Regions from separate parts of the Homo sapiens genome. Here region 1 is linked to region 2. Evidence: fine-mapped expression QTL. Tissue or cell type: whole blood. Region 2 holds a variant in brackets; the other region holds the start of a gene. All regions are shown on one strand. Distances are from middle to middle.

Region 1 (8,109 bases), 51 kb after region 2:
ATCTATCCTGACATAGGCAGTAAACAATTGGGGGTTGGTTTGCTCATTTGCATTGCTTCAGAAAAAGCCTTTGGCTTTATTTGTTCTTTGAATAAATCAACATTACTTTCTTACAATATTGATATACTTTCTAAATTTTTCCCAAAGTATGTTTTAAAAAATAAAGGTCATGAAGTTATATCTATCATCAAAGTAAGGATTATATATTTTAGAAAATATGAGAAACATGAAAAAAAGAACAAAGGTAAGTACTTTAATATTTTAATGATTTCCTTTTAATATTGTATCTATTCATACATTTTAATTCATATTTGTTTTCAACTACTATAATAACATTGCATATAAATTTTTATAATAATATTGCATAAGAATTTTTTCATGTCATAACCTTTTCCTAAACACCTTTTAATAGATTCAGCTCATCAAGTAGACTGATTAACCATTCCATCTTGCTGGACATATGGCTTCTTTCAAAATTTTCACCTCAGTAAATAACAGTGTAGTGAAAATCTTCGTACACTAAAGCCTTTTCTACAGTTAGGATTATCTGCTTAGATTCTAGAATCACTGTCAAAGAATTTTGACAGTTTTATAATTATCTTAACATGAAACAAATTATGGCCCAAAGTCTATATATGACACAGAGACTGCTGTCTTATTTTGGAGCAGTTTTGTCCCCCCTCCAGGGACAAGTAGAAGGACTAGGAGATTCAAAAGGATTTTTTATTATAAGTAAATGGATCACCAAGGGAAAAAATCTGAGAATCACCACTTTGAACAAAAGATCAAAGGGCTGGAAAAGACTGAGATGTTTGGTCAATTTTTCTACCTACTAGTGGCATCAGACCTGAGATCTCTACTTCAAGAATTCATAACCTTTGAAGTTAACCTAGTTAAACCCAAACATTTTAGATCCTCTTCCAACACTGTTCACAGACATCAAATTTTAGCTGCTGACAATGAATGATGGGACATGGGGGTTATTGCCCTATTCCGTCTGTTAATATGTTTGAAATGTGCCATAATAAACTTTTAAAAATTAGATTATCACAGTACCCAACCTAAGGCATCAAAATGTGTTTGATCAAGCTGGGTGCAGTGGCTCATGCCTGTAATCCCAGCACTTTGGGAAGCCGAGGCAGGCAAATCACTTGAGGCCAGGAATTTGAGACCAGCCTAGTCAACATGGCAAAACCCTGTCTCCACTAAAAATACAAAAAAATTAGCCAGGCACAGTGGCGCGCACCTGTAAGACCAGCTACTCAGGACACAGAGGCATGAGAATCGCTTGAACCCAGGAGGCAGAGGCTGCAGTGATCAGAGATGGCACCACTGTACTCCAGCCTCGGCAACAGAGCAAGACTCTCTCAAAACAAAAACAAAACCAATTAGCCAATTGGAGAAATCTGATGGACTGGGCATCAAATGATATTACAGGGTTACTATAAAAAAAAATGTGTTTGACCAATCACATAAATTGAATATACCACATAGTAAAATGTGTGACTCCTAAGCTGGACATAGCGGTGGCGGCACACGCCTGTAGTCTAACTACTCAGGATGCTGAAACTAAAGGATCACTTGAGCCCAAGCGTTTGAGGTTGTAGTAAGCTATAATAGTGCCACTGCACTCCAGCCTGGGTGACAGAGCAAGACCCCATCTCTAAAACAAACAAACCATAAATGCATAAATTTAAAATAAATGTGAAGTCAACCAACTATTTTAAAATAAAATAAAATGTGTGACTCCTGATAATCTATGCTGTCCTGACCATAAAACAGGAAGTTAACATTTTAGAACCCCTAAAATAAAATGCCATTCAAACACAGCCACATTTCAGTGAAACCAGCCACATTTTAAAGGAATCAGAAAATCCCTTTCCATTACAATGCAACTAGAAGGCCTGCATAAGTGGAGGGCCCTTCTAACAGAATTCCACAGTTCCCCAACCCAGAATTCCCGAATTATTTACACTTTCCCATAATTAACACCCTTATCTTTTTTAATATGCAGGTTTGGTTGTTTTAACTGAAAGCATATAACTTAAATAGTGAACCAAAATAACCCAAACTCTTATTCAGCACATCTCACAGAATACACATTTTCAATATTCCAGATTAGCAGGATGGAGAGTTCAGGAGAGAGATCAAAATTTAAATCTGTCAGTGACGACCACACACAGCAGCAGACTGCAAGGTTCTTCTCAATAATGCAAAACATCTTTCATCTATGAATTTTCCCAGTTTTCATGAATTTAAATATCTACAGAAATGTTATAAAAGCTTTAAAATTCCTAAATCCCAGTGCTACTCTATTCCCTATTATTCCAGGACCATTTCCAAAACCAAAGCTACCAGAACAGCTTAGAAATCATTAGGCGGGGTTGAAAAATAGACTCTTAGATTTAAATATACGGTTTTGGTGGGTTTGGTTGTTTCTTTAGGGTTTTTTGTTGTTTTTGTTTTGTTTTGTTTTTTGTTTTGGGGTTTTGTTTGTTTGTTGTTTTTTGAGACAGAGTCTCGCTCTGTCGCCCAGGCTGGAGGTTACTGGCACAATCTCGGCTCACTGCAACCTCTGCCTCCCGGGTTCAAGCGATTCTCCTACCTCAGCCTCCCGAGTAGCTGGGATTATAGGCACCAACCACCGCTCCCGGCTAATTTTTGTATTTGTAGTAGAGATAGGGTTTCTCTATGTTGGCCAGGCTGGTCTCGAACTCCTGGCCTCAGGTGATCTGCCCGCCTTGGCCTCCCAAAGAGCTGGGATTACAGGTGTGAGCCACAGCCCCCGGCCTGTTTTGTTTTTAATTCATACTTTTGTGGACACAAGAACGCATATTTGGTGCAGACTGGCTCCAAGGACAGGATATCTGAAATTATTTGAACTGAAACAATATAGTTGTGCCAATAAAGACAGAAAAGACTAAAGACAATATAAAGCTTGTCATTTAAATGTTTTTTAAAAAATATCTTTCGTACCGTGGTTTTCTTAAAACGACTACTTTATCTACACTAATCATCTGGACCTCTGATGCCCAACCGAGACGAAAGTGCTGAGTGATGACCAGGGGTCGGGTAGCTTGGTCCACAAGAAAAAGAGAAATGTTTTCATCTTGAATTCTTTAGATCCCGACCCCTCCGCGCAGAGTTCAGCGGGCGAGGGCGAGGGGCGTCCTGGGCAGGGGGCGCCCCTCATCCAGCCTAGGCTCCAGTCACGTACGTGCACGCAACTGTCAAAGCTCAGCCCAAGGAGCAACTCTCCGCATCTGTGCATTTCATCCTGAGTCAAGCCCCATAAAAATTGGAATACGTAAAAATGGGCAAAAATTGAACATTTAAAATACAGCAGTGAAAAGGGAGGAGTGCCTGCTCCGGAAATGCTCTAAGCGTGGTTCATCAACACTCCCTGAAGAGCGGACCACGGAGATGCTCCGAGGCTCCGCCATCCCGCACGCAGGACAAAGGTGCTGAGAATGAGGCGCGCTGGTCCTGCACCCTCTGCCGAGAGCCGGAAGCCAGGGGCGCGCCGGGGCCGGTCGGGCACGTGCAGGGGGCTCTCCGGCCGCCGCGCTGCCCCGAAGCCGGCCCTGGGGACTCGCGGCTGCGCGGACCGAGCTCGCGAAGGGGACCAGGCTCGCGGAGGGGCCGCAGCGGCCCCAAGGATGGCGCAGGAAGACCCCCCACGCAAGACAGCCGGTCGCGGGGGTCAGGGGCGGCTCCTCCCGGGCCCGGCCCCGCCCGACTGACCTGTGACGCTGGCCCGGGTGACGCGCTGCACCACGGCCTTCATGGCGGCGGCTGGGGCGAGTGGGGCGGCGCCGCGCTGCGTCCGGCCTCGCGACTCTGAGGGCGGCTCCGCAGCCGGCGCCCTCTGGAGGTGACACCCGGAAGCGCGCCCAACTGGCCGGTCCGACTCGGTCGGCTGCTACCCACCCCACGTCGGCCACGCCCACTCTCGGCCTGGCGATAGGCCCACCCACTCATAGATTGACTCCGCCTATGCCTGCCACGCCCACCTGCTGCCCAACCGTAACCCCGCCCGTCATTGAAAAGCCCAGTCCCCACGCTCGGCCCTGCCCCATCCACATCTGGGTCCCGCCAGAGCCCTTTGATCCCCCCATCCCGGGCCCAGCCCCTACCCAGTGCCCAGAACCCACTCTGCCCCGAAGGTAGTCTCTATGCTGGTTTTTTTCTCCCACATACCCGAACCTAAGAACCCGTCATCACTAAGCCTTTAAATTCAGCCTGAATCCTATTTCTAATTGTATTCCTCTTTCCTCTTCCACTCCTCTGCACGCAGATCCTCCCAAATTCTTCTTCCTTGTCTTCCTGCCTCAGTGGCTTTTCAGATACCACATACAAAAGGATCTGCTGCCTAAAATAGCCATTTACCTATCTCACTATTAATTCGACTTAGCCATGTCATGATAATAAATAGGTATGTGATTCTAGAATTCTAATTTCTCATGTAATATAAATGCTACTAATTGGCCCCCTCACTGGGTTGTTAGATTTAAATGAACCAAACCACGTAAAAGTGCTTAGATGGCAGCAAAGGGCTGTACAACTATTACCCCAACAAATTATTATCATTGCTAAAAATAATTCCATCTCAGCAGTCTTCACCTTAAAGGTGACTAATAGCATTGGTGGGCGTAGAAAAGGCACTGAAATTGAGAAGAAACCCTCACTTGCCCAGAAAAGACTACAAACTAGTGTGCTTGTTTGTTAAATACTGAATACTAAATTGCCTTAATAACGTTGTCAAAGTTAACATAACCAGTAACAAGACATCATGTGCCTCCTGATATTGCACTGGGAAGGACACAACATCAATCTTGTGGTATTTCTGCCAAATAATGTATAACCTGAATCCAATCATGATGAAACATAGGACAAAAATAAATTGAGGAACATTCTACAAAATAACCAGGTAGGATTCCGAGAATTAAGGAGGATTTTTTTTTTTTTTTTTTTTGAGATGCAGTTTTGCTCTTGTGGCCCAGGCTGAAGTGCAATGGTGTGATCTTGGCTATCCACAACTTCTGCCTCCTGGGTTCAAGCAATTCTTCTGCCTCAACCTCCTGAGTAGCTGGGATTACAAGCATGCGCCGCCACGCCCGGCTAATTTTGTATTTTTATTAAAGATGAGATTTCTCCATGTTGGTCAGGCTGGTCTCGAACTCCCGACCTCAGGTGATCTGCCCGCTTTGGCCTCCCAAAGTGCTGGGATTACAGGCATGAGCCACTGCGCCCAGCCGTGGACTTTTTAAAAGACAGGAAAACTACCTGTAATCCCAGCACTTTGGGAGGTCAAGGTGGGCGGATCATTGGAGGTCAGGAGTTCGAGGCCTGCCTGGCCAACATGGTGAAACCCCGTCTCTACTAAAAATACAAAAATTAGCCAGGCATGGCAGCGCATGCCTGTAATCCCAGCTACTCGGGAGGCTGAGGCAAGAAAATTGCTTGAACCCGGGAGGCGGAGGTTACGGTGAGCCGATATCGTGCCACTGCACTCCAGCCTGGGTGACAAAGCAAGACTCTGTCTCAAAAAAAAAAAAAAAAAAAAAAAAGACAGGAAAACTAAATTAACCTGGGTGGTATCCTGGCCAGAAAAATCAAGAAAAGGAAAAGCTTATTATTGGAACAACTGGTAAAATTTGAGTTTTTGAAAAATCAGCAGGTCTCAATATTTTGATCACAGGATCCCTTTACATTCTTAAAAATTATTGGGCACAAAGTATAGCTTTTGTTTAGGTGGATTATATCTAAAAATGTTTACTGTTTTTAACTAAGAGAAATAGTTAACATGGATTTATCAATGCATTTAAAAATAGCAATAATAAATCCCCTACATATGAATATCAGAGCAATGAAGTCACTATATGTCACGGAGCCCCTGGAAAACTCCATTGTGCACTCCTGAAAGAATAAGACTAAAAAAGGGAAAATTGGGCTGGTCGTGGTGGTTCACGCCTGTAATTCCAGCACTTTGGGAGGCTGAGGCAGGTGGATCACTTGAGGTCAGGAGTTCAAGACCAGCCTGGCCAACATGGTGAAACCCCATCTCTACTAAAAATACAAAAATTAGCCAGGCGTGATGGTGGGCACCTATAATCCCAGCTACTTGGGAGGCTGAGGCACAGGAATCACTTGAAACCGAGAGGCGGAGGTTGCAGTGAGCCAGGATCACTGCCACTGCACTCCAGCCTGGGTGACAAAGTAAACCTGTGTCTCAAAAAAAAAAAAAAAAGTTAACATACTTAAAATGGAATTCAAAATGTTCACCCCTATGGTACAATAAAGACTTTGGCCTTTGTTAATTCTGGGTTTCTGGCATGGAGCTTTAAAAATTCTTGGAATTTCTCAAGAGACAGGAGTATCTTTGTTATTCATGAGCTCCTTGATTATTCCTGAGTTTACTAACAAGACAATTCAGATTGGGAGCTGGTCACTGGAAAGACCAATAGTGACTGGATGTCTGAGCCAGCCCAACCTGTGGGAGGGGTAGAAGACAGAGATTGAGTTCAACCTGTGGCCAATGATTCAATCAGTCATGCTTACATGATGAAATCCCAGGAAAGACTCTGGACATTGAAGCTTCATTGAGCTTCCTGGTTGCTGAACACATTGATGTGCTGGGAGGGTAATGGCCCTGATTCCGCAGGGAGAAAGCACAGAGGCTCTGTGTTTGGTACTCTCGCAGACCTTGCCTAACATATCTCATTTGACTGGTCCTAATTTGTATTATTTATAATAAAACTATAAATGATAATTACAGCACTTTCCTCAGTTCCATGAGTGATTCTAGTGCATTATCAACCCTAGGGAGTCATGGATACTCCTGACTGTGTAGCCAGTTGGTCTGAAGTGCAAGTGGTTTGGGGACACCCAAGTGTGGTTGGCACCTGAAATAGGGGCAATCTTTTTGGGAAACGTACCCTTAAACTTGCAGGATCTGTTCTAACTCCAGGTGATTCCTGCCAGAGTTGAACTGCAATTCACCAGTTGGTGTTCAATGAACCCCGAAGCCCTTCATACTCCACCATAAGAGTCATACCTTTTTTTTTTTTTTTTTTTTTGGAGACAGAGTCTCGCTCTGTCACCCAGGCTGGAGTGCAATGGCTCGTTCTGGCTCACTGCAACCTCCACCTTCCAGGCTCAAGTGATTCTCCTGCCTCAGACTTCTGAGTAGCTGGGATTACAGGTGCTGCCACCATGCCCAGCTAATTTTTGTATTTTTAGTAGAGATGGGGTTTCACCATGTTGGCCAGGCTGTTCTCAAACTCCTCACCTCAAGTAATCCGCCTGCCGTGGCCTCCCAAAGTGCTGGGATTACAGGCATGGGCCATCGCACCTGGAAAATCCCCACTTAAATAAGTGGCTCCACTTGTTTACTGGAGCCAGAAGTAACCTGTGATTGCTCTCTTCCCCATTCCCTAAGTATCTCGTCCATCAGCAAATCTTCTCCCTCTCCAAAACCTATCCCAAAGTGCCCTCTTCTCTCCATCCCTCCTGCAGCATCCTGCTCCACCATTCTTTCCCACTTGGATTTCTACCACACCTTCCTCACTGGTCTTCCTACCTCCCCTTTGTCCTTCTCCAATCCATTCTCCAGGCACAGATGAAAGTGATGCTCTTAGAATATAAAGTCTTAACAATCCAGACTCTGACCACCTTTAAATTCCTCAAATAGTCTTTGGTTGCTAGCTCAGGACTTTAGGATCTGCTCTTGCTCCACCTGGAACAGGTAGGTTCCTCTACATTCATTCACTCTTTGTACAACACACTCCTCTCCTGCCTTTAGGTATTCAGCTTCAATGCCACCTCCTCAGATAGACCTTCTCTGTCCACACCAAGAAAAGTAGGTGTTCCTGCTCCCTGTTTTTCTCATGTTTGTCCTGTGGGTTTTCTCTCATAATCTTCTGGCTACTTTCAATGAGTCTATTTGCCTGGTAAGCTGTGTTCTTCTACCTGTGTCTCTCATGCTTACCACTGAATCCTCAGCATCTAACACAGTACCTGGGGCTCAGGTAATATTGCCAAAGGAATAAGTGTGAGAAGCCAATTTTTTGGCTTAACAGTGTATCATGGATTTACAGTATTTCTCTA
Region 2 (8,109 bases):
ACTACCTACAGCACCTCTCAACTACGCACTCTCAACAAGGCATTTATGAAAAACCCATACCCTGGGATTGATTCCAGAGAACAAATTGCTAAATAAATTGGTGCTCCAGGCTGGGCATAGTGGCTCACAACTGTAATCCCAACACTTTGGGAGGCTGAGGCGGGTGGATCACCTGAGGTCAGGAGTTCGAAACCAGCCTGACCAACATGGAGAAACCCCATCTCTACTAAAAATACAAAATTAGCCGGGCATGGTGGCACATGCCTGCAATCCCAGCTACTGGGGAGGCTGAGGCGGGAGAATCTCTTGAACCCAAGAGGCAGAGGTTGCGGTGAGCAGAGATCGCACCATTGAACTCCAGTCTGGGCAACAAGAGCGAAACTCTGTCTCAAAAAAAATAAAAGAAAAGAAAAGAAAGAAAGAAATTGGTGCTCCAGAGTCAAGAGTCCAAATTTGGTTCCAAAATCAAAGATCTAGATTTCATCTTCAGAGAAAAAGGGAACCTGTTGTGTCCTTAGAACAAGAAGACCAGGGGCAAGATCTCTGAGGGACTTCAAGGTACAGAAGACACATACAATAGCACCAACCTCACTAGCAACTGTCACTTCCCTAGAGCCAGAACATGGTGAAAACACTCAAGTTCAGTGTATTTAGTATTATCAACTTGGGTCCCAAATCTCTCTCACGGTCTTCCTGGGAGTCGATCCTTCTGCTGAAACTGCAAGCTAAGCCTTCTGAAGAGGGTAAACAACTTGGCCAGGTGCGGTGGCTCATACTTGTAATCTCAGCACTTTGGGAGGCAGAGGTAGGAATATTGCTTGAGCCCAGGAGATTGAAACCAGCCTGAGCAGCACAGCAAGACCCTGTCTCTATGATAAAAAATAAAATAAAATAAATAAAAAGAACTGTAGGAGGCAGAGATAGGTACAAGAGGCATCACACTACCCTACTGACACAGCCTGGATCCAGAGTTCAGCAGACCTTGAGACAATGAAAATAAACTTAATAATAATAGTAATAAAAGACCTCCTTGGGATAACTGGTAAATTATGGAGGCTGAAGATGGCTGCTAGTAAAATGTCAATGCTAATTTTCTGATTTTGACAGCTGTTTTGGGGCTTCTATAAGAGAATGTCCCTGTTTGCAGGAAAGATACTAATGAATTCAAGGGTGAGAAGGCATCAGGCCAACAACTTACTCTCAAGTGATTTCAGAAAATAAAGTCCCTGATACTGGTCTCCCAACCTGTCTGCAAGTAAAAACATCATACACCTTATACCATATACTAAAACTAACTCAAAATGGATCAAATATCTAAATGTAAAAGCTAAAACTATAAAACTCTCAGAAGAAAACATAAAGAAAAAGCTTCATGATTTAGATTTGGCAATGATTTCTTGGATATAATATCAAAAGCACAGGCAACAAAAGCAAAAACAGACGAATTGGATTTCATCAGAATTAAAAACTTCTGTACATCAGAAAACACCACCAACAGAGTGAAAAGGTAATCCACAGGATGAGAGAAAATATTTGCAGATCATCTATCTGTTAAGAAATTAATACACAGAATACATAAAGAACTTCTGCAATTCAACAATAAAAAAAACACAAAGCAATTCAAAACTGGGCAAAGAACTGAAATAGATCTCCAAAGAAGATATACAAATGGCCAAGGAGCACATGAAAAGATGCTCAACATCACTAATCATTAGAGAAACGTAAATCAAAACCACAATGAGATACACTTCACACTTATTAGGATGACCAGTATCAGAAAACACACACACACACACACACAAACACACATACAAAACAGCAAATGTTGGTGAGGATGTGGGGAAATCAGAACCCTTGAGCATTGCCGGTAGGAATGTAAAATGGTACAGACGCTGTGGAAAACAGTATAGTGGTTCCTCAAAAAATTAAACAAAGAACTACCATATGATCCACAACCTGTACCTAGGTATTTACCCAGAGGAATTAAAAGCAGGGTCTTGAAGAGATATTGGTACACCAATGTTAACAGCAGCGCTATTCACAATAATGAAAAAGTGGAAACAACCCAAGTGTGCATGGATAAACGAATGGATAGACAAAATACGGTATACAAGAGAATATTCTGTGGCCATAAAAAGAAAACTCTGACACATGCTATGAACATAAGGCTCAACATGGATGAATCTTGAAGAAATTATGCTAAGTGACATAAGCCAGTCACAAAGGGACAAATACCATATGATTATTCATATGATACTCAGAGTGGTCAAATTCAAAAGGCAGAAAGTATTATAGAAGGGCCGTTGCCAGTGGCTGAAGGGAGAAGAGAATCGGGAATTACTACTTAAGGGTAAAGTTTCAGTTTTGTAAGATAAAAAGAATTCTGTAGATAGGCTGGGAGCAGTGGCTCACACCTGTAATCCCAGCACTTTGGGAGGCCGAAGCGGGTAGATCACTTGAGGTCAGGAGTTTGAGATCAGCCTGGCCAACATGGTGAAACCTCATCTCTACTAAAAATACAAAAATTAGTCAGGCACGGTGACGCATGCCTGTAATCCCAGCTACTCGGGAGGCTGAGGCAGGAGAATTGCTTGAATCTGGGAGATGGAGGTTGCAGTGAGCTGAGATCACTCCACTGTACTCCAGCCTGGGTGACAGAGCGAGACTCCGTCTTAAAAAAAAAAAAAAAAAAATTCTGCAGATAGATGGTGATAATAAAAGTTGCATAACAATGTGAATATACTAATGCCACGAAACTGTATACCTAAAAATTTTAGGTTATGTATAATTAAACACAATTTAAAAAAATCTTCTGACATATACCCACCCAGAGATACCATGTGTAAATGTGGGTAAACATATTTTTGTTAAGTCTGGAAGTAAATACATAGAACTTATTAACGGCGCTACCTCTGAGAATGAGAGTTATTGTCAAAAATATTTTTAGTGTATCTTAAACTTCTAAATTCTTAAAAGAATACTGATTTTATGTATTAGATATAACAAAAATTGATATAAAAATGCTATTTTATGGACTCATGAGAAAAAAGATAGGAAAATAACTGTTTCTATAAAAATACCTTTCTACCCAGGAATACTATAAAAGCTTACTATTAAAAAATAACATTTCTAAATTGTTACTTTCCAGTTAATACACTGCTTTCTTGCTTGGAATTTTTTTTCAAGTAGTAATTATGATAATAAGAGACTCTTCCCAAGAGAAAATGAAGGGGGGCAAAGGGACAACATGAAACTTAAAAAAAAAAAAAAATCCTCAGAGCATAAGGCCAGATCTGGTCTGGATTTCAAAATGAAATTTTATAGAACTTATACTTATCCCCTGAAGGTTTCATGACCCAACAATGACACGAATGGTTAATAATAGCCTTTGCCCTCCCTCTGCAGTCAAACAGCCATGCAATTCCTGAACAGAGCCACTGCCCGGGGGATATTATGTGAGTATCATGTTCCTGACTTAGCAAAGGAGAAGTGGAAAATGGAAACAAGGCCACAAACTCAGATCTTTCCATTACAAAGAAATTGAGGCTTCCGGGCTTCACTTTCATGATTAAAAATAGAAAAAGAAATTGACTTCACATTTTATGGAAAATAGTCAAACGAATATATTTTCTGTGAAGAATATTCATAGACATGCCATTCTTTTGTGTTTCGTTTTGACAGAAATAATTGCGATGGTGGAGCTAGTGAGGTATAAAGTGGCTGCTGCGAGACTCTTGACCAGCTAGCAGCAAGAG[GC/C]ACGCTGGAGCCCACAGTAGGACAACCTTCTCCAGTCCTGACTTCCACTCCGCCTCTGGAGCAGCTGCCTCCCTTCTGACAATGACTTTCCATAATTTCCAAGCTCAATGAACACCAGGAAACATACTTTTCCAAAAATAAATCTTTCTTTTTCTGACAAGCTCCTATGACAGACATTTAGAAATTTCCCTGAAAATATTAGCTACAATAGTATACATAAATCAAATTCAATATACATGTTTCTTGGGCTTTTTACAGTATCTTTTTAAAATTAATGTTTTTGTATTTGGGGGAAAACTGGGCAATAGTGAAACACTTGGCTTCATGTTGACCAGGAAAAAGGAGACTGCTTCCCTGAACTTGCTTGCTTTTTTTTTTTTTTTTCTTAAAAAAAAAACCATCAAACAAGTTCTGGCTTTTGTGTCCAGACTGTGCCCAAGGATCACTAAAAACCAGGGGTGAGCATCGCACTCCTTGATGTCCAATGTCTGATGTCATCATAGAAACTCATGCCATGGAATCCCTCCACCATGCTGGCCTTGGAGGCAAGAATGGGGTCATTCCTGCAGTGAACTGTGGGAGGTTGAACTTTACAATATTACTCTCTAATGCTCAAGCCACAGTATGAAAGAACCAAACATGAGTCACTGACAGAAAAGCTCTACTGTGGAAGGCAGAATATGAGAGTGGTTGAGGGCCTCCAAAGTGTATCCAGAATCTTTCCACAGCTCCTAAATGCCCTCTCTGCCACCCTGTCACAAGCCACACATCCCCCGATCCTGAGCCTACACTAAACCCAGTCTCATCCATCTCTGCAAACACAAATCAGAGCTCTCAACATTCTAACAGGTCTTTGGCTTACTAACAATAAAAGCCAAATTCCTTACCTTGGCCCATGAGGCCTTGTTCCATCAACCCCAGGTCACAGCTCTGGCCTCAGGTTCTGCCCCTCTCCCTGTCACCCTCCAAGCTCCAGCCACACTGGCCTTTCTTCCACCAGTCACCCTAGAGCTCTGCATCTGCTGACCCCTCTGTCTGGCACTCTTCCTTCAGTCTTCACTGGCTCCCTCTTATCTCAGCATCCTTCCCTAGCGCTTGCACCTAAGGGGACTTCTAGCCAACAGCATTCTCTACACCTAACCCTGTTTGATTTCTTTATATCATCAGAATTTTAAATTATACTTGTTTTTGTTTTTGTTTGTTTCTCCACTAGAATGGAAGCTTCATGAGGGTACAATGTTGTTTCAGTGCTGGACCTACATGCAGGGCCAGCACAGAGCAAGCACCCAATAATAATCTGCTGGATAAAGGTATTGGATGAGTAGGTAGTGGACAGGTGAGTGGATGGATAGATGGATGGATGGATGGATGGATGGATGGATGGATGGATGGATGGGCAGATGGAGGGACATATGGGTGGATGGATAAATGGATAAATGAACAAGCAAGCAAACAAACAAATGAGCATGAGCTTTTTATTCAAGGGCATTACCACTACGAAATCCTTGCCACACCACGTGATGGGGAGCCAAAGGCAGGAAGAAAGGCCTCGCCTGGATGGGCACTGAGGTAAGCATCATGTGTGAAGAGCTACCTATCTGAAATGAACCTTAAAAGATGGGGAAGATGTCAGCAGGTAGAGACAGGGAAGGAGTTCATTTCAGGTGGATGAGCAGAGACACAAAGGAGAAAAAATTGTGATACTTATTCATGAAACAATAAATAATCTGCAGGAAACTAGTCTACAATTCATTGTGAAAAGCTTTTACCATGAACTGAATAGGTAATAATACATCATAAAATATGAGCCCTTAACAATTTCCCATGTGTGTTTAAATGTAAATGATCAGCTAACTGCCCATGGAAGCCTCCACATTCATGAATTTCATTAAACTACAATTTCCATGCAGAGGCTAAGATGTCGATCACCCTGGGTTTTTATTCTAGTTCCATTAACACTTCGACAGATGAGTAAGGCATTCCATGTCTGGTACTCAGAAAGCCAAGAAAACTATAAATTACTTTCAACTACAAGTCTTAAAGTGGCTACACTGCTACAATCTTGCACACTCATTGAGCAATCCACATGTTGGGCTCATCTCTCCTAGGAAAAAAGTTATTACCCCAGCATATGCCTCAATGTCACCCAGTAGAGCGGCTGATCATCAGTCACTAACATATTGAGCTGTTGTTGCTGCATCGGCTTTTCCCTGACACATCTGTAATTGCGTTGAGAAGGCACCATATTCTGGAAACATTTTCATCACTGCCTGTGTGGCAGGGGGAAGGGGTGTTGGGAGACTGAGGGCTCGTTGATGAATAAGAACAGACTCACATGTGACCTCAATAATCAAGCAAAGCCATCTTGTTTCCTGGCAGCTGCAGTAACATAGGTTGTAAAGTATTTTTAGACAGTTGGGGGTGAGGAAGGGAGGGCAGGGTGGTCCAGAAGAAACCAACACCTGGAGCAGATGATCACTGCAAGGCCTGATTCTCTCTATTCCAGTAGTTCCCAAATGTCAGTGTGCTTAGGAGCACACAAAGACCTGGTTAGAAACATAAATGGGCTACTCTTCTGCCTTCCTCATCCAGACACTCCAGGAACTCTGGCTCAGAAAACCTGGGTGGGCCCAGGACCCTGCATTTTAGTAAGCACCATGGGTGGCTTGATGCCAGTGGTCCTCAGTCTGCCGTTTGAGGAACACTACCACCAACCCCTGGATAACTTTGATAGAGAAAGAATGTGTAATCTCTGCACACAACAGTCCCCAGTCCACCAGCCTCTTCACTTCTTGGGACCTCCAGAGAATGTGACAAAAGTCCTGGTCCCCTTTTTCCCAGCAAAAGGCACTTGCACACATCCACACATACAAAACTTGTGGGATAAGCTCAGGCCAGTCTGTGAGCCCCTAAGAGTCTACTTGATCCAACTCACACCCCACTGACCCATCCTAACCTTCTCTTTAAGATTAAAAAAGATAACTACCTCATCAGTCATTACAGACTACACCTATACTGCGGCAAGCTGGCAAACACCTCTGTGTAGATAAGGGTTTTATCTATGCCTGTAAAAAAAGTATAGCAAGTGCTGCATTTTTTAGAATTCTATCACTTCCAGATCTTTCATTCTCTCTCCATTACTAAAGCAAATGTTTCGGCAAGGTTTTCTGCAAAACACCACTGACTGGCAGAACATTTTTCTACAATTACCCGGGACTGTGAAGCTCCTGGTAAATCACTTAACAAGCTAAGAATTCCCAATTAAAATACTGAGTCTGTTTAACTAAATTATTGCTATGCACAATGTATAAATCCATGGAAGGAAAAACTCTACCTCTCTCCCTTCAGAATAAAAAGGATGCTGTTAATCTTTGGCAGGTCAAGTCAGCAAGGTAAGGAGTTCGTTTTTTTTTAACACACACACAAATGAGATTATAAGATTAAAATAACTAGGAATCTGCCCAAAACACATATACAGGAACAAACAAATAAAGCCCTTAAACCTTAAATGCACTACCCCATTAGTGTCCTGAGAGACTGGTTTAAAGCAAAACAGATATTTTGCTCTGGTTGGAGATTAGAAATGTCTTATGTGTCAATGGTAGAAAAGAAACAGATCCTAGTTTTTAATTTACCAGACATATTCCAGTAGAAGAGAAAAAAACTCTTTTCAATTTTTGCAATTTCCTTAACCTGTGCTATGGATTTAAGATGGTAAGGTGAAAGTCAATTGATTAATCAATTCATCAATGGGTCCCCAACAAAGAGACAGTCATGCCAGCCTTGTAAAGGCTTCTTTTTAAGCCCACTATGAGCTGACTTAGGACAACCATCTATTTGGAAACAAATTAAAGTGATAAAAGTGATCCCTTACAGCTCTCCACCAGGAAGAAAAACATCTACTAAGCTCCCACCCTTTCATACCAAATATTCATGCAATAGGCAGGCATTCCCCCAGGCACTGACAAGGACTCAGGATAAATTCTGACTGTGCAGAGCAGTGGGCTGGGCTGAGTGAGGTCAGGAGCTCCACCATCTCTACACCCAACTCACTCCCCAGAGGGCTGAGCTGATCTCATAATTCATGGAAAGCAGGTGCTCAGACAGAAAGGATCAGAAATCCAGGTGATTCCATGTGTGGTGAGAGGTCTGGCCAGGTGGCGCCCTAGCCCTGGTAGGAGGCCTTCCATGTGGCAGCCTACGTCCCAGAAGTCAGCGTCACTGACAAAGACTGCACAACAGCAACAACTCTGTAATGAGGACGCTTTGCTGAGTTCCCACTTCTGTTTTGGTGATACTTCAGCATAAACAAAGCTGGACCCTCAGTCAGCGTTTGTTCAATAAATTAATATG

The links. PIP is the estimated chance that this variant, and not a neighbour inherited with it, causes the effect.
Region 1: DTD1 starts here. The variant in region 2 is fine-mapped to the expression of DTD1 in whole blood (TOPMed, PIP above 0.99).

The regions. Positions count from the first base shown.
Region 1 is chr20:18,583,751-18,591,859 of GRCh38, reverse strand. DTD1 (D-aminoacyl-tRNA deacylase 1) reads right to left here and starts at 3,806. Exons shown (of 6, transcript NM_080820.6): 1 at 3,745-3,806. The coding sequence starts at 3,787. LOC124904878 (a long non-coding RNA gene) reads left to right here and starts at 4,395. Exons shown (of 3, transcript XR_007067547.1): 1 at 4,395-4,435; 2 at 7,616-7,747. RefSeq lists enhancers at 3,270-3,329, 3,170-3,669, 6,341-6,635 and a silencer at 3,440-3,979.
Region 2 is chr20:18,635,214-18,643,322 of GRCh38, reverse strand. The region is part of intron 4 of DTD1 (D-aminoacyl-tRNA deacylase 1); the gene reads right to left. It also overlaps the pseudogene DUXAP7. Among named protein-coding and RNA genes, the nearest start is that of DTD1, 51 kb to the right of the region's middle. The variant GC/C (reference allele first, on the strand shown) is at 3,756.